Homo sapiens: one gene and its partners. The protein of the gene in region 4 purifies or fractionates together with the protein of the main gene of each other region. This does not show direct contact. Each region holds a gene or a part of one and is shown on either strand. Other genes may lie near its edges. The genes, in order: CLUH, ELAVL2, GPHN and ZAR1L.

What was found.
Region 1: the proteins of ZAR1L (region 4) and CLUH purify together in Homo sapiens (co-immunoprecipitation; 2 studies listed by BioGRID and IntAct, with this or other methods). This does not show direct contact.
Region 2: the proteins of ZAR1L (region 4) and ELAVL2 purify together in Homo sapiens (co-immunoprecipitation; 2 studies listed by BioGRID and IntAct, with this or other methods). This does not show direct contact.
Region 3: the proteins of ZAR1L (region 4) and GPHN purify together in Homo sapiens (co-immunoprecipitation; 2 studies listed by BioGRID and IntAct, with this or other methods). This does not show direct contact.

What each region holds. Positions count from the first base shown.
Region 1 is NC_000017.11:2,694,749-2,701,771, reverse strand, and holds part of CLUH (clustered mitochondria protein homolog), read left to right. Parts: intron 1-34; coding exon 35-159; intron 160-251; coding exon 252-406; intron 407-506; coding exon 507-632; intron 633-946; coding exon 947-1,094; intron 1,095-1,297; coding exon 1,298-1,390; intron 1,391-3,181; coding exon 3,182-3,876; intron 3,877-4,829; coding exon 4,830-5,053; intron 5,054-5,233; coding exon 5,234-5,338; intron 5,339-5,512; coding exon 5,513-5,613; intron 5,614-6,245; coding exon 6,246-6,398; intron 6,399-6,491; coding exon 6,492-6,554; intron 6,555-6,670; coding exon 6,671-6,915; intron 6,916-7,023. UniProt on the Homo sapiens protein: mRNA-binding protein involved in proper cytoplasmic distribution of mitochondria.
Region 2 is NC_000009.12:23,823,237-23,830,994, forward strand, and holds the start of ELAVL2 (ELAV-like protein 2), read right to left. Parts: upstream 3,005-7,758; 5' UTR 2,570-3,004; intron 1-2,569.
Region 3 is NC_000014.9:66,917,130-66,924,152, reverse strand, and holds part of GPHN (gephyrin), read right to left. Parts: intron 1,488-7,023; coding exon 1,215-1,487; intron 1-1,214. UniProt on the Homo sapiens protein: Microtubule-associated protein involved in membrane protein-cytoskeleton interactions. It is thought to anchor the inhibitory glycine receptor (GLYR) to subsynaptic microtubules.
Region 4 is NC_000013.11:32,312,341-32,319,783, forward strand, and holds the start of ZAR1L (protein ZAR1-like), read right to left. Parts: upstream 3,024-7,443; 5' UTR 2,975-3,023; intron 2,806-2,974; exon of another isoform or gene 2,737-2,805; intron 2,211-2,736; 5' UTR 1,990-2,210; intron 1-1,989. Other genes in the region: BRCA2 (breast cancer type 2 susceptibility protein), read left to right, coding at 4,121-4,187, 6,737-6,985. UniProt on the Homo sapiens protein: mRNA-binding protein required for maternal mRNA storage, translation and degradation during oocyte maturation.

The DNA of each region.
Region 1 (7,023 bases), on a different chromosome or scaffold from region 4:
GCCCTGTGCTGACCACCAGCCTCGGGTCCCTCAGACAGCGGGAAGCGGAAGAAGGGCTTGGAGATGGACCCCATCGACTGCACACCACCCGAGTACATCCTGCCAGGGAGCCGGGAGCGGCCACTGTGTCCCCTGCAGCCCCAAAACCGTGACTGGAAGGTAGGATCCTGGGGGAGGGAGGAAGAGGGTCCCTGGCGGGGTGGAGGCCCCACACCAGAGGCCTGGCCCCTCAGACTCGGCCGCTCCCGAAGCCCTTGCAGTGCCTGAAAGTACTCACCATGAGCGGATGGAACCCGCCCCCGGGGAACCGGAAGATGCACGGGGACCTCATGTACCTGTTTGTGATCACAGCCGAGGACCGGCAAGTCAGCATCACCGCGTCCACACGGGGCTTTTACCTGAATCAGTGAGTCCCTGCCAGCCCACCACACCCCCCTGCCGTGCCAGCCGTCCTGGGTCTGGGCAGACACCTGGGCCCCCGCTCAGTGCCCGCCCTCTCCCTGCAGGTCCACAGCTTATCACTTCAACCCCAAGCCCGCCAGCCCCCGCTTCCTAAGCCATTCCCTAGTGGAGCTGCTCAACCAGATCAGCCCGACCTTCAAGAAGAACTTCGCTGTGCTGCAGAAGAAAAGGTAGTGCCTTTGTCCCCTCCCGCCTTGTCTCATGGCACACGGGGGCATGGGGTGAGCCGGCCCACCTGCACTCCAGTGCTTCTGTCTGAAGAAACCGCCCTGGGCCCCCAGTGTTGGAGTCCCCGCTCTAGGGAGCTGTCGGCCAGTGCCGAGACAGCAGCCGCAGGAGAGGCGCCCGTGCACTTCCATCTGGCTCCAGGGCAGTGTCTCAGGGTGGGAGATGCCGGAGCAGGCGGGGGCCTCAGAAAAGGGGCCCGTGGAAGGGCTCTGAGCTTGGTGGGCTGCCCCATCTCCCCCTCCCCTGCCTGCCACAGGGTCCAGCGCCACCCGTTCGAGAGGATCGCCACCCCATTCCAGGTGTACAGCTGGACAGCCCCCCAGGCGGAGCATGCCATGGATTGCGTGCGTGCAGAGGACGCCTACACCTCGAGGCTGGGCTATGAGGAGCACATTCCTGGACAGGTGCCTGCAACCTGGCCCTGCCCTCGCTGGGCACCCCTGCCCTCCTGGGTGCTGGGCTGGTTCCGTGCACTTCCCTGGAGGCCCCATGCTTGACTTCATTTGGGAGTCTGGGGCTCTTCTCAGGAAGGTAGAAGGAGCGACTTCCGGGAGCAGGTCACAGGGCACAGGCTGAGCTCGTTTTTCCCTCCCTGATCTCTCTGCAGACCCGAGACTGGAATGAGGAGCTGCAGACGACGAGGGAGCTGCCTCGCAAGAACCTGCCTGAGCGGCTGCTCCGAGAAAGGGCCATATTCAAGGTGCCTGCAGCCTCTGCTGACCGGCAGTCTGAGGCCCGCTGTCCACCTGCTGACGGGTTTTCTCATGGAGAGGAGGAAAGCAAGGGAGGCAGGGGCAGCCCTAACCCTGTCAGGTTCCCCGAAGGCCAGTCAGCGTCTCCCGCAGGGTCTGCTAGCCTTCCGCCTCCCAGCAGACCATCCCAGTACCTTTCTCTGGCCTCTCTGAGGCTTTGAGTCCCTGGAAGGAGCGGGCCCTACTTCCCATAGGGACTGAGTGTCCAGGGCCGTGCAGCTTCCCGCCCTCTGTGACTGCTGCGGGGCTTTTGCCTGGGCGAGCACTGGCCGGCCATGGCCCTTCTAGGGCGGGTGCTCATTTGCATAACACTTTTAGTTTGCTGGGGTTTAAAAGTTATTAGTGCTGGGTTACTAAGAGAAATGAGGAAAAGCAGTTGCTTAAGAAAAAAAAAATCTCAGGCCGGCTTCAGTAGCTCATGCCTGTAATCCCAGCACTTTGGGAGGCCGAGGCGGGCGGATCACAAGGTCAGGAGTTCAAGACCAGCCTGGCCAATATGGGGAAACCCCATCTCCACTAAAAATACAAAAATTAGCTGGGTGTGGTGGCGCATGCCTGTAGTCCCAGCTACTCGGGAGTCTGAGACAGGAGAATTGCTTGAACCCAATAGGCGGAGGTTGCAGTGAGCCGAAATTGCATCACTGCACTCCAGCCTGGGCGACAGAACAAGACTACGTCTCAAAAAAAAAAAAAAGAAATCTCAGCCAGGCACAGTGGCTCACGCCTGTAATCCTAGCACTTTGGGAGGCTGAGACAGGCAGATCACTTGAGCCCAGGAGTTGGAAACCAGCCTACGAAACATGGTGAAACCTCGTCTCTGCAAAAAATACAAAAGATTAGCCAGGCATGGTGGCATGTGCCTGTAGTCCCAGCTACTCGGGAGGCTGGAGTGGGAGGATGGCCTGAGCCAGGGGAAGTCGAGGCTTCAGTGAGCTCGGATCTCGTGCCGCTGCATTCCAGCCTTGGCAACAGCGTGATACCCTGTCTGAAAACAACCAACCTCCCATAGTTATACTGCCTAGAGATGATAATTGTAGAAACAAAAACTCATTTCTCGGGTACCGACTTCACCAGAGATGGTGCCAAGTGCGTTATAGAGACTATTTCCTATAATATATTGGACAACTTGTAAAGGTCAATACCTTTATCTGTTCAAGTTCACCTGGCACATAACTGGTGGATCCCAAACCTGCGCACGCTTGTTAATCACTAAGCCCTGCTGTCTCCCTCAGCACAAGTGTATTCTCAAAACATGGGGGTTTTGGTTTGTTTGCGCTTTTTTAGAAATGGAGTCTCACTCTGTCCCCCAGGCTGGAGTGCAGTGGTGTGATTTCGGCTCACTGTAACCTCCACCTCCCGGGTTCAAGCAATTCTCCTGCCTCAGCCTGTCGGGTGGCTGGGACTACAGGCGCGCGCCACCTCGCCTGGCTGATTTTTTTTGTATTTTTATTAGAGATGGGGTTTCACCATATTGGTCAGGCTGGTCTCGAACTCGTGACCTCAAGTGGTCTGACCGCCTCGGCCCCTCAAAGTGCTGGGATTACAGGTGTGAGCCACCGCGCCCGGCCAAAACATGGTTTTCTTGCCCTTTTCTACATATGAGGAAACTGAGGCTCCGGGTCCTTGGGTTTCCAAGGCAGGCCCGGTTGCCTCCGCGGTCTAGGTGCGTGCGCTTGGCCAGGTGGATGCAGGCTCTTGTGGGCGCGGCCTCTAACCCTGCCCTCCTCGACCCCCGCCAGGTGCACAGCGACTTCACCGCGGCAGCCACCAGGGGCGCCATGGCCGTCATTGACGGCAACGTGATGGCCATCAACCCCAGCGAGGAGACCAAGATGCAGATGTTCATCTGGAACAACATCTTCTTCAGCCTGGGCTTCGACGTCCGAGACCACTACAAGGACTTCGGGGGGGACGTGGCGGCCTACGTGGCGCCCACCAACGACCTGAATGGCGTCCGCACGTACAACGCGGTGGACGTGGAGGGGCTGTACACGCTGGGCACGGTGGTGGTGGATTACCGCGGCTACCGGGTCACGGCCCAGTCCATCATCCCCGGCATCCTGGAGCGGGACCAGGAGCAGAGCGTCATCTACGGCTCCATCGACTTCGGCAAGACCGTGGTGTCACACCCGCGGTACCTGGAGCTGCTGGAGCGCACGAGTCGGCCCCTCAAGATCCTGCGGCACCAGGTGCTCAACGACCGTGACGAGGAGGTGGAGCTCTGCTCCTCGGTCGAGTGCAAGGGCATCATTGGCAACGACGGGCGCCACTACATCCTCGACCTGCTGCGCACCTTCCCCCCGGACCTCAACTTCCTGCCCGTGCCTGGCGAGGAGCTGCCTGAGGAATGCGCCCGCGCCGGCTTCCCCCGCGCCCACCGGCACAAGCTCTGCTGCCTGCGCCAGGAGCTGGTGGACGCCTTCGTGGAGCACAGGTGAGGGGCGGCCCTGCCGGACCAGGGCCGGGGCCAGCTGCAGGGAGTGCGGGCGCCCTGGGTGGATCCGGGGTTGGGTCCTTGAAGGGAGAAGCGCTGGAGAGTGAAGAAGGGCTCCGTCTAGCCACAGTCATTGGAGACCCGTCCCCACCTGCCCTGCTGTCAGGCTCCCGAGCGCAGAAACCCGGGCTGCAGACTCGCGAGCAGCCAGGCGGGTAATGTGGCTGTGGCGGACACTGTTCTCTTAAGGAGCACTTGGAAGTCTGGGTGGCTGTGACTGTCCCCGTGCTGGGGCGGGCAGGTGGGGCACCGGGGGTCCCCGCCGCTGGTGTTTAGTGCTTAGGAAATGGGGAAATGGCCATGTCAGAGGTCCCACAGCATGAGTAACTCTCAAATGCCAGTGGCTTCCTGTCACTGTTGAGAGCCCTGACCTGGATGGGGAGCTCCTCTTTTCCCATACCCTCCAGAACGCAGCTGCCTTTTTTTTTTTTTTTCTGAGACGGAGTTTCACTCTTGTCGCCTAGGCTGGAGTGCAATGGCACGATCCCGGCTCACCGCAACCTCTGCCTCCCGGGTTCAAGTGATTCTCCTGTCTGAGCCTCCCGAATAGCTGGTATTACAGGCGTGCACCACCACGCCCAGCTAATTTTTTGTATTTTTAGTAGAGACGGGGTTTCTCCATGGTGGTCAGGCTGGTCTCGAACTCCCAACCTCAAGTGATCTGCCTGCCTCGTCCTCAAAGTGCTGGGATTACAGGCGTGAGCCACCACGCCCGGCCGCCTTTTTCTTCCTGTCTTGGGAGATCTTGGTTTTTCTGCGTTGACTCATGCACACCGGCCAGGAGGTGCCCTATGCCTGCGGGGTGTGGAGCCCCAGCTGCCGGGAGCCGTGGGCCAGCAGAGCTCCTCTCCCCGATGTCCAGCTCCTGCTCTGCCCTGTTTCCTCTGCTCCAGGTACCTCCTCTTTATGAAGCTGGCCGCCTTGCAGCTGATGCAGCAGAACGCCAGCCAGCTGGAGACCCCCTCCTCCCTGGAAAATGGTGGTCCTTCCTCCTTGGAGTCCAAGTCTGAGGATCCTCCAGGACAGGAGGCGGGAAGTGAGGAGGAGGGTAGCAGCGCCAGCGGCCTGGCCAAGGTGAAGGAGCTGGCAGAGACCATCGCCGCAGACGACGGCACAGGTGGGGCTGCTGCAGATGGCCGGGAGAGAGCCCGGGCTGGCCCTGCCAGGGTGGCTTATGACCCCCACCTGGGAGAGGCTGGCAGACATCTCTGCAAGGAGCTAGGGGGCGAGGCTTGGCGCAGCCCAGCTCCACCGGTGGCAGAGGGGACCCGTGTCTCATGGAGCCATGTCTCCACAGCAGACCCTCGGAGCCGGGAGGTGATCCGCAACGCGTGCAAGGCGGTCGGCTCCATCAGCAGCACCGCCTTCGACATTCGCTTCAATCCTGACATCTTCTCACCAGGCAGGTGGTGGGGGCCGGCCAGCGCAGGAGCCCTCCAGGGCCAGAGCTTCGCTGGGGGGCCTGGGCCCTTGGGGCTGGTGGGTTTGTCCCCCATCTGAGCGCTTCCCCCGCCAGCGCCAGGCGGCATTTGTCTTGCCACTGCCTGGCTCAGCCTCTCTGCTCTCCCTCCTCCAGGGGTTCGTTTCCCTGAGTCCTGCCAGGATGAAGTTCGGGACCAGAAGCAGCTGCTGAAGGACGCGGCTGCCTTCCTGCTCTCCTGCCAGATCCCTGGCTTGGTGAGGGAGGGGCTGCGGGGCTGGGTGGGGCTTGTGTGGAGGGTGCTGGTCCCTCATCTGTCTCCGACTTGGAGGCCCATGAACACAGGCTCGCAGGAGTGACTTTTTCAGCTTTCCCTGAGTGGGCATCCCCGTTTGACAGATGGGGAGCCTGACCCCCAGAGGTCAAGGGCACAGGCCCTGCTGAGCCCACCGTGTGGGCTGGCAGCTGGTAATCCAGTCTTCTGAGCCCTGGATGGTGGCATGGCTGGGGGACGGGGCCAGAGCTCAGTGGGGGCTGCCCATCCTCCTCCTCCTCCCGCAGGCTCTGTGTCTGGTTCCAGGATGCTGGGTGCTCCCCCAACACCGTGGCCTCCAAGCCTCAGGACACGGGGCTGGGGGTCAAGTAGTGCCCCCAAGCGGGCACCTCTGCTTCTCCCACATGGTTAGAGGGGGCCTGTACCACCACCGGGCTCTTGGTTCTTGGCCTGCGCTCCTGCCAGAGGCTGGGCACATTCTGACATCCTGACTGGGAGCTGGAGCCTTCGGGGTCCTTCTCCAGGGCCTCCCAGGATAGCTGTGCTCCCCCAGAAGGACTCAGTTGGGTGGAGGCAGAGGAGCTGGGTGGGGGCCTGAGCTGCTGCAGCCCGCAGGTGAAGGACTGCATGGAGCACGCGGTCCTGCCCGTGGACGGGGCAACGCTGGCAGAGGTGATGCGCCAGCGGGGCATCAACATGCGCTACCTGGGCAAGGTGCTGGAGCTGGTGCTGCGGAGCCCGGCCCGCCACCAGCTGGACCACGTCTTTGTGAGTGCTGCCCGGGGTGGGGCGGAACGGGAGCTGTGGGACTGGGATGGAGGCCGGGGGCCTGACCAAGACCTCCCTTCTGAATCCTTCCAGAAAATCGGCATTGGAGAACTCATCACCCGCTCGGCCAAGCACATCTTCAAGACGTACTTACAGGTGCCACCCGTCCGCTCTGCGGCTGGCCATGGCCTCCCAGGGTGGTGTGGGGCGTCGGGAAAGAGCCTGAGGTGGGGCTGAGGGCCCTCATGACTCGGATCCAACCTGCCTCGCAGGGAGTCGAGCTCTCCGGCCTCTCAGCCGCCATCAGCCACTTCCTGAACTGCTTCCTGAGCTCCTACCCAAACCCCGTGGCCCACCTGCCCGCCGACGAGCTGGTCTCCAAGAAGCGGAATAAGAGGAGGAAAAACCGGCCCCCGGGGGCTGCAGATAACACAGCCTGGGCTGTCATGACCCCCCAGGAGCTCTGGAAGAACATCTGCCAGGAGGCCAAGAACTACTTTGACTTCGACCTCGAGTGGTGCGTGCGGGGCAGGGGCGGTGGGGTGGGTGGGATTGGGCAGATGAGGCGGCCACCACCTGCTCCCAGATGGCGTCTAAGGCCTGTGGTCATAGGCCAGGGAGTCAG
Region 2 (7,758 bases), on a different chromosome or scaffold from region 4:
TAATTATAATATTCTCATCCCAGGCACGCGGGATTGCTAAAAATGCCTATTTCCAAAACGTTAGGCGAAAATGGGCCTACTTAATTTGTCAATCCAAACCTAAAACTCTTAGAATGCCCTACGCCCTACTTCCTGACGCTGACTAAATTATGGGAGAGCTCTCAGAAGAGTTCCCCAAGTCTTCCAAACCACTTCTTCCTACAACCGTAGCGTTTTTTGTGAAGAGCTCCAGAACAGGTTAGCTTTATGAAGCGGGGTGCCCAAGCACTTGGTTAAAAGAGGGAACGGGGAAGAAGTGCCTGCTGTAAGACACATTCAGGCAATGACAGCAATAAGTAAGGGCGAGAGTTAAAAAATAAAATGTTAACCCCATAACAACTTCGAAACTCTCAACATATTTTTTTGCGGGCTTATCTGTTCATAGTCTGACAAATCTTTCAGATGTCCCATTTAAGAAGCCATTTTACAAGGAAGTCTTAAGGCCCAAACACATTTCCTACCCTTCTGTTCCCCAAAACACGAACACCCTTTTTCTGACCTTTAGAAACTGATTTTCAATTTGGAAAATAATTTCTTTAGTTACTATTGTCTGCTGTGTACTTTCTAAAAATTTTCATTGTAAGTCTACGTTTTATAGGTTGCAGTTAATAGTGTAGGCCTGGGAAATAAAACATTAATCTCCCTCCCACCCCCAGAGGATGGGTATAATAAATAGGGGTGCGGAGAACGGCTGAAGGTTTAGAATCTTAACCAACTGGAGTGTTTGTACATGAGAGGGGGAAGGGACAGAATCCGTGCATTTCGGGGAGAAAGTACAGAGACCTCCATCCCTGTCCAGCAGTGTTAACAGTAAATACTAAATGGTTGGCTATTTCTCTCACCCTCGCCATAATAAAACCAGACCTGCAGCCGGTAATTACGAGAAAATACCCAGTCTCGCCATCAGTTTTGCTAACCGGTACTTGAAAATGGGAAACGGGGAACTTATCCAACCTCCAATTTGTCACAGTTGTATAGCTTTCGTATTAATTCTGTACAGACGTGAAATAGGTGGGTACGTAGCAACGTGCTGGGCATAAATTAAGCAACAATGGCCACGCGAGGTCTCGTCCGCCGCGGAGCTCCAGTGGTGGGCACTGCCACCTTGCCATCCCTAGCCCCCACCGCCCTTCGCAGAGTCCAGTCCGGGAGGCTGACGGTGCGCTGGCTTTCCCAGCCGGTAGAGTGGGTGGGGTGAGGAGCAACGAGACGTTAACCCCAGCCGGCTTTGTAGCTTTTTCCCATCCTCTGCCTCTCGAGCACCACATGAGCGCTCTCACGCACACACTCACCCACACCCCCTCGTGCCAATAATTTAAACTTCTCTTAGGAAAGCCAGCAGCTTGTTCCACCACCACCACCCCTTCCGCCCTCCCCGGCCCACGAACATCCTCCCCCTTTCCCACATCTACCCTGGATCCTCTCTTTGGCAGTAGAAAGCCAAATGATTTCTCCTAAACCCTGAGAAATCACAAAAGTTAAAATGAAGCGTGTGCCTATCTGCCCAGCTTGTCATCCCCAACCATCTTTCTCCTGGCGTCAATTTAACAATAGCTATTCGAGGAAGTGGGGGCGGTAAGGAGGGGGTGAGGGCTACGTGGCCGAGTTGGCTCCTGGGGTGGCTGCGAAGCCTCGCGGCTGCAGAGGGGTTCCCCCTCTCCCCGAAGGCGAAGTCAGCCGCGTAGGACCAAGGACAGGGCTTGGAATCCACTTCCCAGCGCCCAGCACAGCGAGGCTCCCAAGCAGCCGGCACTTCATAGACACAGCTCCAAGGATCTTATTTACGCTTTTCTGAACAAAGGGAATCTCATATCCGGTACAGGCTTAAGAATTCAGCCCCAAATTGGCTATCTTCTTTTAAAACTGAATTATGATAATTGGAGTCCGTGAATCAGAGCCCGCATACAATGATGAGTTCTGACAGCTTCTAACAACCCTAGCCTCAGCCCAGCCCCAGCCCCAGCCCTCAGGCGGCATGTACTTTTTTCAGTCAACTACAACTCGCTGCCTGGTGCAGCATCTAAATTCCATCTGGCAATCCCATCTCCCCAGCACATGCTATCTGGTTAATGCAATTAAGCCTGTGGTTTTCGCTGGTCTAATCTGCCAGTCCAGGCTTCTGATTCCCCTTAATGATTGTAAAGCCTCTCCCGTCCTTCCGTTGCTGAGCCAAAGTAGAGGCATGCATCCCCAACACCCAAGTTATCACTCTCTCCCCACGAAATGAACTTCCGATCTCAATCTTGAAGCTCACTCCACATCTAACCTCCCATTGTACCCCTACTCCCCCCTGGCCACATTTACCACTTAAGTTTCTGCCATGGACATTTACGAATATTCAGTACGCTAAGCATGCGTCCACCGTCTTTTAGTCTAGCTCTTTAAAATTAAAAAAGCAGAACAGTAGCTTTGAAATGAGACAAACATGTGCAATTAACTTCATATTCTGTATTCCGCTCACTTACAGGTTTTCTGGGTTTGCCAGCGCATCGCTGCAACTAATGATTAAAGAAACCAAACCGAAACTTACCTTTCTCCCTTAAGGTTTTTGTGTATGTGTGTTTTTAAAGTAACGGTGCAGTTCTCCCAATAAGGATGAGCAAGAAGCTGCTGGATAGTTCTCTTAAGACAGCACGAAACCTAAACTGTGCTCGGCTTAAAAGAAGCAAATAAAAAGAAACGCTTTCGACCCCAAAGTCCAATGCTAAAAGAAATGGCGAAAAAAAATATGAAAGGGGAGGGGAAACTTAAAAAAGAGTTTAAAAAGACGGAGAGACTACCCTCCTATTGCCGTTCAACTAAACAAAAAGGGGCAAGAAAAACAAACCAAGGAACAAAGAAAAGAGACGAAAGAACGTTTTTTCAAAAAGACGATGTCTTTCTCCTTGTTGCTTTTTAGTAGGTCGCTACAGGAGTAAGCTGCTGCATCTCTAACTAAGAACAGAAATAGGGGGGAGGACGTCTTAAAAGGGAGGTGGACTGGACCACAGATTTATAGCACCGTATCACCAACCCCTTCTCTGCCTCCGCACTGCCGTGTGTGCAGCTGCTCTGCCAGGCTCCTATCCCGGGCAGCACGCGCGGAAGTATACGCCGAATCGCGCCACAACGTAACTTGCTCATCGCCCCAGGATCCTGATTGGTCCACACGCTTCCATTGAGGCCGCCCAGGCGGGGCCGCGTGAGACGATTGGCTATGGGCTTGTGTCACTCTCGAGAGCTCAATGGAGTCCCGTTTCAAGGTAAGTTGTGCGGGGAGGTACACTCTTAACACTGGCGGCGAAGGGAAATGCAAGAAGCAAAAAGAAATGTGGAGAGAGCAACGTGGGAGGGTTGGAACTGTACTATCAGAGTTTGCGATATGGCACGATCTCCTTTCCTCTTAAATCTTTCTGCTTCAGAAAGATTCATTTCCTTTGCCATCACTGCTGCATCTGTGGCATATTTCTTTATAACATTTAACTCTGTCCGGTATGTATGAGTCATTGAGAGCTCCCTCTCTTTGATCTGAGTGAAAGGGATGAATGTACATCCATTATTTGCCCGCATGCCTTTTTTCGATTTGTGTTCAGTACTGTATTTTGTATTAGATGTTAGGTAATTGTATGTCTTTATTTTAATATACGCATATTTCAGATTTATGTGTCCCCATGAACCCCTTTTTAAAGCATCCTTTTAAGATAAAGATGAAGTCAGAAATGCTCTCAAATAAAGCTGCACGGTTTGAATTGGCTTTCACTTCATGTTAGAATAGAAAAGTGTAGGATAAATATCCTATCCAGAAAAAGAGGTATTGAGTAGAGCTAAGGTCCTTCACTTCGAGGTGTCTAATGATTCTCAAAAAGAGCAGCTGTATATAAAACTGGAACAAGCCACTCCTCTGCATTTGCAGACAGGTACAGTCCTTGGACCACACATGTATTGCTGACAGCAAAGATAGTTGAACCTTTATCAGGGCTCTTTCTGTGAGGATTTAAGAAGTTTAACCAGAAGACCAAGTGCTATCAATGCTTCTGCTTCATAGAGGAAGACTACTTTATTACAACCCCATATTTTAACAGCATTCAGGAGACCAAAATACAGTTTTATGCATGATAATTGTTTCTTCCTCTAAGTGAAAGTGAGGTCCTCAGGATCGTCTGGATGTATAAGTAGACACAATATTCATTTGACCTACGTTCTTTTCCAGCCAGCATTTCTCTTTTCAATCTTGAAAGATAGCACCAACTTCCTAGACAGTTTTTACCATTCTTACCAGAATGTGTAAATGTAATGTACACATTACATTACACATGTAATGTGTCTTAACCAGAGGCACATGCCTTTTTGAAAGGGATTCCTTTACATATTTACAACTAGTCGCTATCTTTGAGAATGCCGGAAAAAGAAGACACAGGTAAGAGTTAGAGATTGCAAAAGGGTAGGGTGTCATGGAGGGGAATGGGACAGAAGATCCCAAAGCAAAATGACTTTGAAGTGAGGAATACAGTAAATCAGTGTTCTTTGAGAGTGTCCTTGAGTGTTGATAAATGATTAATGGTGAAAAACAGACCTGTTTATCTCCCGTGTAGCCTGTATAACAATATACGAGTTCTGTTACTTTGCATGACAATACCTGGGGCTTGAGAAAGAAGGCCTGAATCTATGTTATCTTATAATTAGTGTTTATAAAATCATGCCTTAACCTCCACCCCCAGTTTTTGTATAACAACCTCTGGAGTCTTAATTTCAACTTAAAACTATTCTCTAGACCTGGGTGAAACTCACAGCAAGAAGAAAGAAAAGCACTTTGAAGAAATGGAGTCAAGGGGGAAAAGGAAGACTCCACCCCATCTAGACTAGATGTATGAATAACAGAAGATTGGGTTTGTAGTCATCTTCCTTCAACCCCTCCCCTTGTCCCCAGCTCCATACAGAGAAATAACCTTTAAATGAATACAATTTGGGGAAAGTATAATACTGTTTGATTTCATCAGACTTACCTAGGCAGTGAATTGTCTTTCCTCCTTTTTACCATGCTCGTAGGTTAATATTGAATTAGTTGCATATGCCCATATAATTTCAGTACATTGAAGTAAATCTTTACCATTATAATTATATAAGTGCCTTCTAACTAGGTGGAAACTAATACTTTTTTTGGTGCATGTTTATATCCACAAAAAAAGACTTGTAGATAACTGTGATATCTGTAGATAACCCAAAATGATAGGGACAGGTGTGAAAAGCTGGGAGTGATATGGAGTAATAAAAATCTAGCATGTGTATTATGTAAAGAAATTACATGGAAAATAGTAAACTTGTTCATTCAAATGAAAAATGCTAAATTCTGTAGATTCAGTATTTATGGTTTTTTTTCAGCTTGGGCATAGTGACAAAATATTATTCAAAGTATTGTCATCCCTAACATGTTGTCTTTTTATGTAGGTGAGATGGACTTAAATTATTTAAAAAGTGAAAGTATCTTAAAATATTATTTTACTTCCTCATTAAAACAGATGTTTTTACATTTTAAAACTTTTAAATGGATAGATGTATTATAAGCAACATGTACTTTTTCAACTTTTAAAAATAAAAAATATTGATTACAGCCTCTTTAAAACAAGTGATATCTGGATGTAGATTTCACTTTGAAATTCATGTCTCATAGCTTGAAACATTAACAAATACATACTATCCTATGATTAATTAATGAAGCCTATGTGCAAACATCTCACTTAAGAATAAGCAAAAAATGCAATCAACCCCTTTTCACTCATAGTTTGGTAAAAGAATTATCCACAACATCTGAATTTGCATTAGAAAGTATTTAAAAGACATTTGAATATGATTAAGTTATATGAACTCTGACATATCTTCCAAGTTCCTGGCATTATTTTGAATTGCAGCAGAAAAGGGAGAGATGAAGGGAATGACTGCGAACTTGGAGCAAAAGTGTGAGGTGGATAAAGTTGCAAAAGAATAGTTCTCAAAACCGAAAAAGTCATGAATTTAATTATTTTACTGAAGTTTCTATATAAGAGAACATTTATTCATAAGAATATGCAAAGCTGTTGTGGAAAATGTCTTTTAGGATAAATAACTCCCTTACACTAGAGGTCCTGGGAGCAAGGGAAGGAGTGATTTTACATTTTGTAATAAAAGTTACTGTAAACTACTTGTAACGTTTTGTAAGTAAATAAAGAAGTTAAACTATTAAAATTAGTTTACAATGTTTGGCTTAAGGCAGTAATTTCCAACAGTAAACCTTCTTAGATGAATAAAAATGTTATGTGTTAGTATGGTGGAGTAGGGGGTTATGGTTCATACTATTGGAAATATGATAGTTTAATGTCTGCATGAGAAATACAGATATCATATATCTTGCTGATTACTCTTTTATTTATTCTTCCTAAAGTAGTATGTGGACTTGCCTTTCACCGAAAGGGGGGAAAAGTTGTGAAAATTGACACCAGTGTGAATTTATACCGTGGCAACCACGCAAGAGAAAGAGGCAGGAATTAGCACCATGGACAGAGACGAGCAGCCCTCAAATTAAGATTTGCAAAGCTTGAGACGGTGTTTTCTGTCCCTTTCTGTGAGACACGGAAACTGCGTGTCTTGGGAATGTTTTATTCCACGGGACTTTGCGGAAAAGACTGTCCTACTCCACAGAAACTCATTTATTTTGAATTAGGCTGGCATTTCTTAGGACTCAGCCATCATGACAAACTGTCAGGAGACTTAGAGCCCCGAACTCGCTGTGCACCTTCCACTGTCCTGTTTTACATACACTCCCTTGCCGGCGTGAGCTCGCCTTTCTTCAGAGTGTTCATGAAAAATAAATGCAAATCCAGGTAGTCTTCGAAAAGTCTGGTAAACCTGCTCCAGAGTTTTTAATCCTCGAATATCCCAGCTGGAATTGCAGCAAAAATGCCTGCCTGCTCACCCTTGCTCCCTCCCCCCGTTCTTCTCCCTGCTCCCTCCACCCCCTAGCAAAGGGGTAAAGCCTTTTACTGGAAGGTGAGTGACTCCCAAGACTATTTTGCGAAAGATTCTTTACATTGCAAACACTTTCGTTAGGGACAGTGCCAGGGGCGGCAGTGAGCGGGATCTCAAACATCCTTTACTTTCTCTTTACATTGTGTCTGTAAACTCCTGTTCAAGGGGGAAAGACTGTAAAGTAAGAGAGCACACTCAAGGAATATTCCCCCCGAATCCTGAGGTTGCTGTTTACACTTAAAGACACATGAATTGTTCATTTAAATGTTCTTTTAAAAAATGTAACTAGTGTCGCGGTAAATCTTTGAGACCAGCCTAGGTTGGTTCTCCCTTCCCAGCCCCCCACTTACACACACACACACACACACACACCTTTTTTTTTTTTTTCCTGGACCAATGTATGAGGTTCATTCTCCTTTAGATGATTTGCCTGCAGATATTCAGACTAAGATCTGTTGCACATGTCCCAGAGTGTCTAGGAAAATATATTTGCAGCCTCAGATCGACGATTATTTTATGTAGACGCTCCCACAAATGTCCCCAGATTTCCTTCCCCTCTTTTACTCAATAGCAACTTTTAGGAGGATAAACTCACGTTTTTCCTGAGCATAAAAAGGGAAAATCTAGGCGACTAGGCGAGGGTGAAGGAAAAAAAACCCCAAAAAACCCGGAGGTGAAAAAGGGCAAATCAGAGACTTATGTCCGTTTCTTTCAGGGATACTAACAGCCTTCTTTAAGCTT
Region 3 (7,023 bases), on a different chromosome or scaffold from region 4:
AAACATGAAACTATACAAGCAAAATGACTAAAAAGGAAAAAAGGTAAAAACAAATGGAAAAATGAAATGCTAACATTTTCCAAATGTAGAATGACAGAATCAGCTTAGATTTTAAATGCCATAAGCTTCTCTCCTAAGATTGAAATTTATGGCACTTCTTACTCTTTTAATTCAGAGTAAAGGAAAAGGAACATATAATGATTTAAAAATGCCTGTTTCACCAATTGGTTTCATAAAAAAAAAATCACACAAAACTTAAATACTTACTAGCCTTTAGTAAGCACTCACTGGATCACTGAATGGACACTTCAAAAGGATTTCTCGATGATTCTAATCTATATATTATTAAAAAAAAAACCTCACAATGCTCGTAGCCAAAATAACTGGATAATCCATAAAATCTGATAATTATGTCATATAGCAATTAAATTTTCAATCTTTATGCTCTTAATGAAAAATCATAATTTCCAGAATTGATATGCTACTTTCTGTAGATATTAAGGCATACTAGGTTGACTTTAGTAGGTATGAAGAATAAACCATGTTCTATAACTTTAAGACAGTTAAATTTACTCAAGTAACTCATGGTAGTATATTTACCCATGGAGTTGCCCAAAGAGAATTTGTAATACTTTGATATTGTCCTAATAATATTTCTTAAAGTAGAAATGCAAATATATCCATTTCCTATCTTTACCACTAGGGTAATTTGTGTCAAGCAATGTTTGAATAAGTTATTAGTTAAGAAAAATTCAACAATCGCTGAAAAGCTTTGTCCCTTTAAAAATCTTTATTAATCTTTCCCAACTCATTTCTTGAATCATCTAAGGTCTTTTACCTTCAGTTTGCTGTTCCTTTAAGAATTTGTGACATTTTGATACTTTGAATATATAAACATTATATATTTAATATGTCCACAAAAATGACATCTCCAAAGAGTTCTAAAATGTCACGTTGTTTATCATTGTAGCTATTACTTCAATAGGCAACAGCTCATCAGTAATGCCTCAGAACTCAGAATTAACTTCAGTGACTTCAAGGAATCTATATCAAGAAGGAAACATAGTAGTGGAGTGTCATGGACATCCCACTTATTTTTTTAGGGTTCTCTGAAGAAGTATTAAATGTAGGGAGGGATGCGATGCAAAACAGATGAAACCAGTACATTTACCTGTGGGTCCTTTAGGCCTCTGAGTAACTCTCATCAGGCTTACCTTGGCAGCAATGGCTGCTGCAGTTATATGTGATGAGGAACTATCTTCTGTTGAAGCAACACCACTGTCTTTCTTCTCTTCTTCCTCTTCCTCACATTGAACTCCTTTGTCTTCTGTCTGTTTATGGGGGCTGGTAGTAGGAGGAGGGGAAAGAGGGGGAGGTGGGGAAGGCAAATCTTCAAGTTCATCATGCACCTCCTTTACTTTTACAATGGCATCACGTAAAAGGTCAATGGCATGAGGTAGAGCTGGCAGTATGAATTGAAAGCATTCCTGTATGCAAGAGAAAGAAAAAAAAATTAAGATGAAGCACTTTTGTAATTATATAAGATGGTGGCAATCAAACTGTTTCGTGATTTTGGATTTGCATTTTCCTCCATCAATCTCAGAATCAATCATATGTAAAACATTGTCTTAGCAATATGCCATGAAGTAAGCATAAAATATGTTATAGCATTCTCCATAAGCTAAGGAACTACAGTGCTACAATGTTGGTCATATGAAACATTAAAAATGACCACTCTTTTAATTGAAATTAACTTTTAAATGTTTATAGGAGTATGTGCTGTGAAATGATCTAAAATTTGTAATATTTTTGTCATGAACTGTACTACTCCTAATTATTGTGATGTAATAAAAATAGTTACAGTGACAAAAAAAAAAAAAACATACACTCTGCTGACTATTCCTTTTGCTATGCAAAAGCTCCTTAGTTTAAATTAGGTCCCAGCTATTTATCTTTGTTTTTATTGCAATTGCTTTCGGGTTTTTGGTCATGAAATCCTTGTCTAAGCCAATGTCTAGAAGGGTTTTTCCAATGTTATCTTCTATAATTTTTATAGTTTTAGGTCTTAGGTTTAAGTCCTTAATTCATCTTGAGTTGATTTTTGTATAAGGTGAGAGTTGAGGATAAAGTTTCATTCTCCTACATAGGGCTAGCCAATTATCCCAGCGCCCTTTGTTGAAAAGGGTGTCCTTTTCCTACTTTATGTTTTTGTTTGCTTTGTCGAAGATCAGTTGGCTCTAAGTTTTTGATTTTATTTCTAGGTTCTCTATTCTGTTCCATTGATCTATGTGCCTATTTTTATACCAGTACCATGCTGTTTTGGTGACTATGGCCTTATAGTGTAGTTTGAAATCACGTAATGTGATGCCTCCAGATTTGTTCTTTTTGCTTAGTCTTGCTTTGGCTATGCGGGCTCTTTTTTGGTGCCATATGAATTTCAGAATTGTTTTTCTTAACTCTGTGAAGAATGATGGTGGTATTTTGATGGGAATGGCATAGAATTTGAAAATTGCATTTGGCAGTATGGTCATTTTCACATTATTGATTCTACTAATCCGTGAGCATGGGATATGTTTACATTTGTTTGTGTCGTCTATGATTGCTTTCAGCAGTGTTTTGTAATCTTCACAATCTACTCATCTGACAAAGGGCTAATATCCAGAATCTACAACGAACTCAAACAAATCAGTAAGAAAAAAAAAAAAAAACAATCCCATCAAAAAGTGGGCTAATGACATGAACAGACAATTCTCAAAATAAGATATACAAACGGCCAACAAACATATGAAAAAATGTTCAACATCACTAATGATCAGGGAAATGCAAATCAAAACTGCAATACAATACCACCTTACTCCTGCAAGAATGGCCATAATCAAATAATCAAAAAACAGTAGATGTTGGCATGGATGCGGTAAACAGGGAACACTTCTACACTGCTGGTGGGAATGTAAACTAGTGAAACCACTAAGGAAAACTGTGGAGATTCCTTAAAGAACTAAAAGTAGAACTACCATTTGATCCAGCAATCCCACTACTGGGTATCTACCCAGAGGAAAAGAAGTCATTATTCAAAAAAGACACTTGCACACACATGTTTATAGCAGCATAATTCATAATTGCAAAATCGTGGAACCAACCCAAATGCCCATCAATCAATGAGTGGATAAAGAAACTATTTTATATATATATGATGGTATATTACTCAGCCATAAAAAGTAATGAATTAACACCACTTGCAATGACCTGGATGAGATTACAGACTATTATTCTAAGTGAAGTAACTCAGAAATGGAAAACCAAACATCGTATGTTTTCACTGATATGTGGGAGCTAAGCTATGAGGACGCAAAGGCATAGGAATGACACAATGAACTTTGGGGACTTATGGGAATTTATGGGAAAGAGTGTGGGGGGTGAGGGGTAAGACAACAAATATGGTGCAGTGTATACCTCTCGGTGAAGGGTGCACCAGGATCTCACAAATCACCACTAAAGAACTTACTCATGTAAGCAAATACCACCTGTACCCCAATAACTTATGGAAAAATAAAAAAAAATAAGACTGAGGACAGGCATGGATGGTCAGAATCAGATTCATTCTCTAAAAAAAAAAAAAGCATGCACTGCATTTTAAAAAAAGTAAAATTTCTATATACAACTTGGTAGTTGAAAGATGCATTATGAGAAAGACAGGAAAGATAGGAAAGAAGCCCAAGAGTTTGAGGCTGCAGTGAGCTATGATTGTGTAACTGCATTCCAGCCAGGGTGACACAGTGAGACTCTGTCTCTAAAAATAAATAAATAAATACATTCTAAAAACTTGTATACTACCCTCTTTTCCATCCCCTCCTCCCCAAGAGAAAACTTACATACTCACATACACACATTTAATTCTTGCGTTATTTCTACAACTCTTAAATGATTTATGCAAAAATCCTGAAGAAACTAGGAGCCCTTCATCCCTTGTTCCCAACCTCCTGAGTCAAGACCATTTCTTGATGTGATTCATGCCAAACACTTAAGACACTGCTGTATCTTGGATGGGTCAAATCTAGTTAACCATTTTTTTTTGTTTGTTTGTTTTGAGACGGAGTCTCATTCTGTCGCCCAGGCTGGAGTGCAATGGCGCCATCTTGTCTCACTGCAACCTCCGCCTCCTGGGTTCAAGCAATTCTCTGCCTCAGCGTCCTGAGTAGCTGGGATTACAGGTGCCTGCCACCACGCCTGGCTAGTTTTTTTTTATTTTTAGTAGAGATGGGGTTTCACCATGTTGGCCAGGCTGGTCTTGAACTCCTGACCTTGTGATCGGCCCACCTCGGCCTCCCAAAGTGCTGGGATTACAGACCTGAGCCCCAACGCCTGGCCAAATCTACTTAATCTTTAATCCAAAAGTAGAGAGAAGCAACTGGGGGCCTTCCATGCAGAAAGTGGGCTCAGGAGGCTAAGTAAAAGAATATGAATATTTATATCCAAGGCACTCAGGAACTTTTACACAGATGCAAGAAACTTATGTCAAAGTGGCCACAAGATTGTTTAATAGGAGACAGACAAATGAAACTCTGTGTTTACTGCTAGACACCAAACCTTTGTGTGAAATCTTGAATTTATGGGGAGGGAGAGTAGCCTGTACCTGTCTGTTATTTTCCTAATCCCAACCCCTCATTCTTGAACTGCAGGAGATTGAGCCCGTTTGGGCTTCGGTGACCCCACCACTGGGGTATGTTTATTTGATGGTTGATTTTGCTGTATTCTCTACTTCTTTTCCCATCTTCTAATCATTTTTTTAACACACATGCTGACTCTTTTCCTATCCCTTCTCCTTTTCTTGGGAAAATACAATGAATAAAGATTTATTGGTACTGAAGTTGTTTAAAAAAAGGCAGGAAAGAGGTTTCATATTTTTAGTTAGAGCAGGGCAGTAGAACTAACAACCGAGGTGAGAACCAGATTATTTTGTCCAGAGAGCTAAAGTTCTAACTACCATCATAAAGTATAGCTAGGTAACATTGTACAGCAAGCAAAATATAAAATAAGCTTGCAAAGAGCACTGCATAAAGTTAATATAATCTGCTGCTGAGGTGCTCACTATTATCTATAACGTATTACCAAAAGAGAATAGGTAAGAACCTAAAAATCAGAATATAAGGCCAGCTATAGCTGCAGAAGAGGTGGAGGTCTTTCTCTTTCACATTTGAAGTAATAGCTTAAAATCTAAGATGTAAAAAAAAAAATCTTAAAAATTTTTGGAGGGTTACATAATATCGGGAAAGATGTTTAATCTTTCGACCTATCTTTGTATGGCTCAATCAGTTTACTCTTTAAAGATTGTGTGGTAAAGAATTTAACCTTGACCGAGGAGAGGTCTGGTCTTTACACTCAGCTTCTGGGAGTGATCTCTAGGTCCTTGGAATTTCACGCCTAATAGGAATGTCTTTGTTGTCCATGGACTTTGGGCACCAGAGACAGTCTAACAATGTTAGACTGCAGTTCAGGAATGAGGGAAAGGGATCAGGAAAAGAACAGACAGGTATAGGCTACCCTCCCTCTCTCCCCATTAATTCAAGATTTCACACAAAGCTTTCGTGTCTAGCAGTAAACATGGACTTTCATTCATCTGTCTATTAAATAATCTTGTGGCCACTTTGACATAAGTTTTTTTGCACCTGCATAAAAGTTCCTAAGTGACTTGGATATATACTCATACTCCCTTTCTTGGCCTTCTGACCCCACTTTCTACATAGAAGGCCCCCAATTGCTTCTCTCTACTTTAGGATTAAAGATTACAGGTCAGCCACACTGGCAGTAAGTGTTTGAGTCCCAATAAAAGCTCTGGATACCAAAGGCTCAGGTGAGCATCCCCAGCTGGCATTACTCCATGTGTGGTATCACAGATTGACGCCAGAAGGGTGACATGTCCATGTCTCCAAAGAGAGAGGACAACAGAAGTTCCTCATTTGTTACTTCTGTTAGACTCTGCCCTATGCACTTTCTCCCTTGGCTGACTTTAATCCGTATTCTTTCCTTGCAATGAACAATAATCATGAGTATAACAGCTTTCTGTGAGTTCCATGAATGCTAGTAAATTATTAAACCTGAAGGTCATTTTAGGATCTCCTGAATTTGCAATTAGGGTCAGAAATGAGCAATTTTGTGGAGTACTCCACATTTGTAGGTGGCTATTTTTTGCAGTTGGCTAAAACTCCTTACAGTTGGTGTCAAAAATAAGATTTTCTAGAAAGACCCTGACTCACTGAAATACATGGCTTAGGAAGTGAAGAGAGGGTGTGGGATGATGAACCTTTGATCCCTGAGTGAAGACAGTGTCAACCACAGCATGGAATTGCTTCTTTACTGTGATTAGTTAATGGAGATAATTCCCAAAAAGTTATCTCACTGGATGCATAAGGAGATGCAAAATATAAAGAAAGAAGTTAAACACACAATCTCTTGGTTATTGTTATCTATGCTAGCTAAAATGAAGGTAAGGGATACAATCCTACTCTAAATGAATAGGAATAGACTGTGCAGGAGGAACTTGCTAAACTAGTATTACCAACGGCAATCTGAATCAGCACAGTGGCCAAACCTTACAACTCTTTAAAAGGTGAAAAAGTTTGGGTATAAATAGAGAGAAGGAAGAATGGTAGCTGAGGGTAAAGGAATGAATGGATAGGTTATGCAGTAAGGGAAATAATACTGCATTGGTATCTCCAAAGAGGTTCAGAACAAGAGATGACATTGTTTCTTAGCTCAACTGTAACAGATGCTTGAAAGAGTGAAGTCATATGTTGCTGAGACCACTCTTATTTTTGGAATCCAACAAGCCTGCAAACCTGAGTAGCATCATTCTGGGAGACATTCTGGTCTGTTAATGTCTGAGAAGGACTCTAAGAACGTGCCAGTATCTTTTGACTTTTATTTTTTAGGTTATGGCTAAGTGTATTGGGAAATTCAGTTAAAGCCTCCTCAGGATATAATGTTAATAGAAAATGACTGGCCTGAGGAAGAAATGCACTTAGG
Region 4 (7,443 bases):
AACAGTATGAAGGTTCCTTAAAAAAGTTAATAGAAGTACCAGATAATCCAGTAATCCCACCACTGCGTATTTACCCAAAGGAAATGAAATCAATATCCTGAAGAGATACCTTCACTTCCTTGTTCGTTGTAGCATTATGCACAATAGCCAAGTTATGGAAACAATCTAAGTGTCTGTTAACAGAAAAATGGATAGAGAAATTGTGGCATGTATTTATACAATGGAATATTATTCAGCCTTAAAACAGGAGATCCTGGCCAGGCGCGGTGGCTCACACCTGTAATCCCAGCAGTTTGGGAGGCCGAGGCAGGCAGATGACCTAAGGTCAGGAGTTCGAGACCAACCTGGCCAACATGATGAAACCCTGCCTCTAATAAAAATACAAAAATCAGCCGGGTATGGTGGCACGCTCCTGTAATCCCAGCTACTCGGGAGGCTGAGGCTGGAGAATCACCTGAACCCGGGAGGCAAAGGTTGCAGTGAGCTGAGATCACACTACTGCACTCCAGTCTGGGCAACAGAGAGAGAAAGACTCCGTCTCAAACAAACAAACAAACAAAAAACAGGAGATCCTGCCATTTGCAACAACATGGGTGAAACTGGGGAACATTATGCTAAGTGAAATAAGCCAGATAGAAAAATACTGCATAAACTCACTGATATGTGGAATCTGAAAAAGTCAAATACATAGAAGCAGAAAGTAGAATGGTGGTTACCAGGGACAGGAAGTTGGGGGGAATGGAGAGAGACTGGTCAGAGCCTAAAATGTTACAGTTAGGTAGAATGAATGAGTCTAGAGATCTAATTTACAGCATAACGACTACAGTTAACAATACTGTATTTTATACTGAAAAGTTTCAAAGAGAAATTTCAGGTGCTCTCACCGCACACAAAAGAAAGGTAATTATGTGAACAGATGGATATGTTAATTGCTTGACTATAGTAATCATCTCACTGTGTACATATACATGTTGTGCACATTAAATATATACAACTTTTAGGAAATAATGGTTTTTTGGGTTTTTGTTTGTTTGCTTGTTTGAAATGGAGTTTCCTTGCTCTGTCTCCCAGGCAGGAGTGCAGTGGCATGATTTCGGCTCACTGCAACTTCCGCCTCTGGGGTTCAAGTGATTCTCCCACCTCAGCCTCCCAAGTAGCTGGGATTACAGGCACATGCCACCACACCCAGTTAATTTTTGTATTTTTAGTAGAGACAGGGTTTTGCCATGTTGGCCAGGCTGGTCTCGAACTCCTGACCTCAGGTGATCTGCCCACCTTGGCCTCCCAAAGTGCTGTGATTACAGGCGTGAGCCACCATGCCCAGCTGGAAATAATGTTTTTAAGAAAAATTAAAGCATATTGTAAATTGAATACAAATAGTAAATTGAGCAGCTGCACTAGAAGAGAATAGGTGAGAAAGTCTATTATGGTGGAGCTAATAAGTTGCAAGTCCCTGGTACAAAGAGAACAAGAAACATAAAGGTATGGGGGGCTGTATAAAATGACAGAAAATGTTATTTCTGAGACTTGTGTGACATGCCACGGGTTCTCATTAGTCCACTCCTAGTGAGACACCCCTCCCCCACAAAAAGGGGACAAAGCATATTGTTCTGATTTATAGGGTAAATAAATCACAGGTTAGTTAAGTGTATGAAGTCAAATGGACTAGAATTCAAACCTGGGCCTTACTACCAGGCACATTACTTAACTACTTGATTCAGTATCCTCATCTGACAATACTGACCAATTTACAGGATTACTGTAAGATTAAACATGGTATTGCTTGAAAACCCAAAGCAGAATGCCTAACTCATAAAATGTTTGGTAAGTGGCAGCTGTTATTAGTAAGGATCACAGACGTATTTCTTTGCGAATTAGACTTAGAGCAAAAGCTTTAGAATCTATCTGCATTAGTAAGGCCTCCTTCTACAACTAAGGATTACTGATTATCAAACTAAAATGGTCCCTAAGGAACCAAGCGGAGCCCACCCTTTTCCTAATCCAAGGTTGCTTCTGTTTACTGCTCAAGCACCTTCTGGAAGCAGCAAGGCCCCCATGGGAGCAACTCTCACTGAATCCATTTGAAGGTTTTGTAGGTCTTACAACAAACCCTATTCAGCCTTGTATTAGGCATGTTACAGAACCAACGAATTCGGAGATGAAGTCAGGTCTTCCAGTTCAGCCTGCGAGGAAGACAGGTGATCCGAATCCTAAGAATGCAAAAGATGGGCCGGGTGTGGTGGCTCATGCCTGTAATCCCAGCGCTTTGGGAGGCCGAGGCAGGCAGATCACCTGAGGTCGGGAGGTTGAGACCAGACTGACCAACAACGGAGAAACCCCGTCTCTACTTAAAAATGCAAAGTTAGCCGTGCGTGGTGGCCCATGCCTGTATTCCCAGCTACTCGGGAGGCTGAGGCAGGAGAACCACTTGATCCCTGGAGGCGGAAGTTGCGGTGAGCGGAGATTGCGCCATTGCACACCAGCCCGGGCCACAAGAGCGAAACTCCGTCTCAAAAAAAAAAGCAAAAGATACTACCAAGCCCTGCGGAGCAAGGTACCTCACACTTCATGAGCGAGTTAAGATGGGTTTCACAATTTTTCAAGCAAGGAAACGGGCTCGGAGGTCTTGAACACCTGCTACCCAATAGCAGAACAGCTACTGGAACTAAAATCCTCTGATTTCAAATAACAGCCCCGCCCACTACCACTAAGTGAAGTCATCCACAACCACACACCGACCACTCTAAGCTTTTGTAAGATCGGCTCGCTTTGGGGAACAGGTCTTGAGAGAACATCCCTTTTAAGGTCAGAACAAAGGTATTTCATAGGTCCCAGGTCGTGTCCCGAGGGCGCCCACCCAAACATGAGCTGGAGCAAAAAGAAAGGGATGGGGGACTTGGAGTAGGCATAGGGGCGGCCCCTCCAAGCAGGGTGGCCTGGGACTCTTAAGGGTCAGCGAGAAGAGAACACACACTCCAGCTCCCGCTTTATTCGGTCAGATACTGACGGTTGGGATGCCTGACAAGGAATTTCCTTTCGCCACACTGAGAAATACCCGCAGCGGCCCACCCAGGCCTGACTTCCGGGTGGTGCGTGTGCTGCGTGTCGCGTCACGGCGTCACGTGGCCAGCGCGGGCTTGTGGCGCGAGCTTCTGAAACTAGGCGGCAGAGGCGGAGCCGCTGTGGCACTGCTGCGCCTCTGCTGCGCCTCGGGTGTCTTTTGCGGCGGTGGGTCGCCGCCGGGAGAAGCGTGAGGGGACAGATTTGTGACCGGCGCGGTTTTTGTCAGCTTACTCCGGCCAAAAAAGAACTGCACCTCTGGAGCGGGTTAGTGGTGGTGGTAGTGGGTTGGGACGAGCGCGTCTTCCGCAGTCCCAGTCCAGCGTGGCGGGGGAGCGCCTCACGCCCCGGGTCGCTGCCGCGGCTTCTTGCCCTTTTGTCTCTGCCAACCCCCACCCATGCCTGAGAGAAAGGTCCTTGCCCGAAGGCAGATTTTCGCCAAGCAAATTCGAGCCCCGCCCCTTCCCTGGGTCTCCATTTCCCGCCTCCGGCCCGGCCTTTGGGCTCCGCCTTCAGCTCAAGACTTAACTTCCCTCCCAGCTGTCCCAGATGACGCCATCTGAAATTTCTTGGAAACACGATCACTTTAACGGAATATTGCTGTTTTGGGGAAGTGTTTTACAGCTGCTGGGCACGCTGTATTTGCCTTACTTAAGCCCCTGGTAATTGCTGTATTCCGAAGACATGCTGATGGGAATTACCAGGCGGCGTTGGTCTCTAACTGGAGCCCTCTGTCCCCACTAGCCACGCGTCACTGGTTAGCGTGATTGAAACTAAATCGTATGAAAATCCTCTTCTCTAGTCGCACTAGCCACGTTTCGAGTGCTTAATGTGGCTAGTGGCACCGGTTTGGACAGCACAGCTGTAAAATGTTCCCATCCTCACAGTAAGCTGTTACCGTTCCAGGAGATGGGACTGAATTAGAATTCAAACAAATTTTCCAGCGCTTCTGAGTTTTACCTCAGTCACATAATAAGGAATGCATCCCTGTGTAAGTGCATTTTGGTCTTCTGTTTTGCAGACTTATTTACCAAGCATTGGAGGAATATCGTAGGTAAAAATGCCTATTGGATCCAAAGAGAGGCCAACATTTTTTGAAATTTTTAAGACACGCTGCAACAAAGCAGGTATTGACAAATTTTATATAACTTTATAAATTACACCGAGAAAGTGTTTTCTAAAAAATGCTTGCTAAAAACCCAGTACGTCACAGTGTTGCTTAGAACCATAAACTGTTCCTTATGTGTGTATAAATCCAGTTAACAACATAATCATCGTTTGCAGGTTAACCACATGATAAATATAGAACGTCTAGTGGATAAAGAGGAAACTGGCCCCTTGACTAGCAGTAGGAACAATTACTAACAAATCAGAAGCATTAATGTTACTTTATGGCAGAAGTTGTCCAACTTTTTGGTTTCAGTACTCCTTATACTCTTAAAAATGATCTAGGACCCCCGGAGTGCTTTTGTTTATGTAGCTTACCATATTAGAAATTTAAAACTAAGAATTTAAGGCTGGGCGTGGTGGCTCACGCCTGTAATCCCAGCACTTTGGGAGGCCGAGGTGGGCGGATCACTTGAGGCCAGAAGTTTGAGACCAGCCTGGCCAACATGGTGAAACCCTATCTCTACTAAAAATACAAAAAATGTGCTGCGTGTGGTGGTGCGTGCCTGTAATCCCAGCTACACGGGAGGTGGAGGCAGGAGAATCGCTTGAACCCTGGAGGCAGAGGTTGCAGTGAGCCAAGATCATGCCACTGCACTCTAGCCTGGGCCACATAGCATGACTCTGTCTCAAAACAAACAAACAAACAAAAAACTAAGAATTTAAAGTTAATTTACTTAAAAATAATGAAAGCTAACCCATTGCATATTATCACAACATTCTTAGGAAAAATAACTTTTTGAAAACAAGTGAGTGGAATAGTTTTTACATTTTTGCAGTTCTCTTTAATGTCTGGCTAAATAGAGATAGCTGGATTCACTTATCTGTGTCTAATCTGTTATTTTGGTAGAAGTATGTGAAAAAAAATTAACCTCACGTTGAAAAAAGGAATATTTTAATAGTTTTCAGTTACTTTTTGGTATTTTTCCTTGTACTTTGCATAGATTTTTCAAAGATCTAATAGATATACCATAGGTCTTTCCCATGTCGCAACATCATGCAGTGATTATTTGGAAGATAGTGGTGTTCTGAATTATACAAAGTTTCCAAATATTGATAAATTGCATTAAACTATTTTAAAAATCTCATTCATTAATACCACCATGGATGTCAGAAAAGTCTTTTAAGATTGGGTAGAAATGAGCCACTGGAAATTCTAATTTTCATTTGAAAGTTCACATTTTGTCATTGACAACAAACTGTTTTCCTTGCAGCAACAAGATCACTTCATTGATTTGTGAGAAAATGTCTACCAAATTATTTAAGTTGAAATAACTTTGTCAGCTGTTCTTTCAAGTAAAAATGACTTTTCATTGAAAAAATTGCTTGTTCAGATCACAGCTCAACATGAGTGCTTTTCTAGGCAGTATTGTACTTCAGTATGCAGAAGTGCTTTATGTATGCTTCCTATTTTGTCAGAGATTATTAAAAGAAGTGCTAAAGCATTGAGCTTCGAAATTAATTTTTACTGCTTCATTAGGACATTCTTACATTAAACTGGCATTATTATTACTATTATTTTTAACAAGGACACTCAGTGGTAAGGAATATAATGGCTACTAGTATTAGTTTGGTGCCACTGCCATAACTCATGCAAATGTGCCAGCAGTTTTACCCAGCATCATCTTTGCACTGTTGATACAAATGTCAACATCATGAAAAAGGGAAATGATTCCATAGCGTTATTATGAAAGTAGTTTTGAACTGTAATGGTAGAGGATGAATAGCTCACAATACAAATTTGTCATTTCCCTTTAAGAGAGAATTCCCATTTTATGTGAGAGTCCACATGTTCCTCATACCCATAGTTTGCCACATCTTGAGTACTCTTCAGAATTATTTGAATTTTTTGAATTTTATCTGTGGAATGTATTTTTTTTTTTTTCTTTTTTGAGACACAGTCTTGCTCTGTTGCCCAGGCTGGAATGCAGTGGCGTGATCTCGGCTCACTGCAACCACCGCCTCCTGGGTTCAAGTGATTCTCCTGTGGCAGCCTCCGGAGTAGCTGGGACTACAGGCGTGTGCCACCATGCTTGGCTAATTTTTTGTGTTTTTAGTAAAGATGGGGTTTCAACGTGTTAGCAAGGTTGGTCTCGATCTGACCTCGTGATCTGCTCGCCTCAGCCTCCCAAAGTGTTGGGATTACAGGCGTGAGCCCCCGCACCTGGCCGAATTTTATCGTGGAATGTATTCTTAATGTGAATAGTTTTTGATTCCGAACCATGAATAATAAGAAAATAAATAAAATTTAAATGAAAATAAAAGCTAATATATACAGCTTTTAATAATATAGTTAAATGCCATCTTGTAACTTTTGTGAACTCTTGTTACACCTTTCTATAGATTCGCAAGAGAATGGATTAATGATCTTGTTTAATTAATATGCCTTAACAAAAGTAATCCATAGTCAAGATCTTAAGCATTTTTTTCCTTATGATCTTTAACTGTTCTGGGTCACAAATTTGTCTGTCACTGGTTAAAACTAAGGTGGGATTTTTTTTTTAAATAGATTTAGGACCAATAAGTCTTAATTGGTTTGAAGAACTTTCTTCAGAAGCTCCACCCTATAATTCTGAACCTGCAGAAGAATCTGAACATAAAAACAACAATTACGAACCAAACCTATTTAAAACTCCACAAAGGAAACCATCTTATAATCAGCTGGCTTCAACTCCAATAATATTCAAAGAGCAAGGGCTGACTCTGCCGCTGTACCAATCTCCTGTAAAAGAATTAGATAAATTCAAATTAGACTTAGGTAAGTAATGCAATATGGTAGACTGGGGAGAACTACAAACTAGGAATTTAGGCAAACCTGTGTTAAAATCTTAGCTCATTCATTAATTGTGTCATGCTGGGCAAATCAGTCTCTCTGGCCTCTTTTTCCTCACTCGAAAAATGGAGACGATGAAAATAATGTCTCATAGGTTTGGATTAAATTAAATAATGTAGGTACTTAGTAAATGTTCTCTTTCATCCCTCCTTTGATAAATTTGCCAACTGAGATTTGCTGAATTACGTCTTTCTTATGCCAAAAAAACCTAGGACTTGTTTTGATGTTAATTAAACTAAACTATATTTCTGCAAGCTATCACAGAGGACAGAGATTATTTTACCGATATACTATAAGTATCATGATTTGGAAGGAGTTTCCCTGGCGTAGGTGCCGCATGTTTCTAAGCAATTATGTAATAAGATTATATATTCAGTCATTCA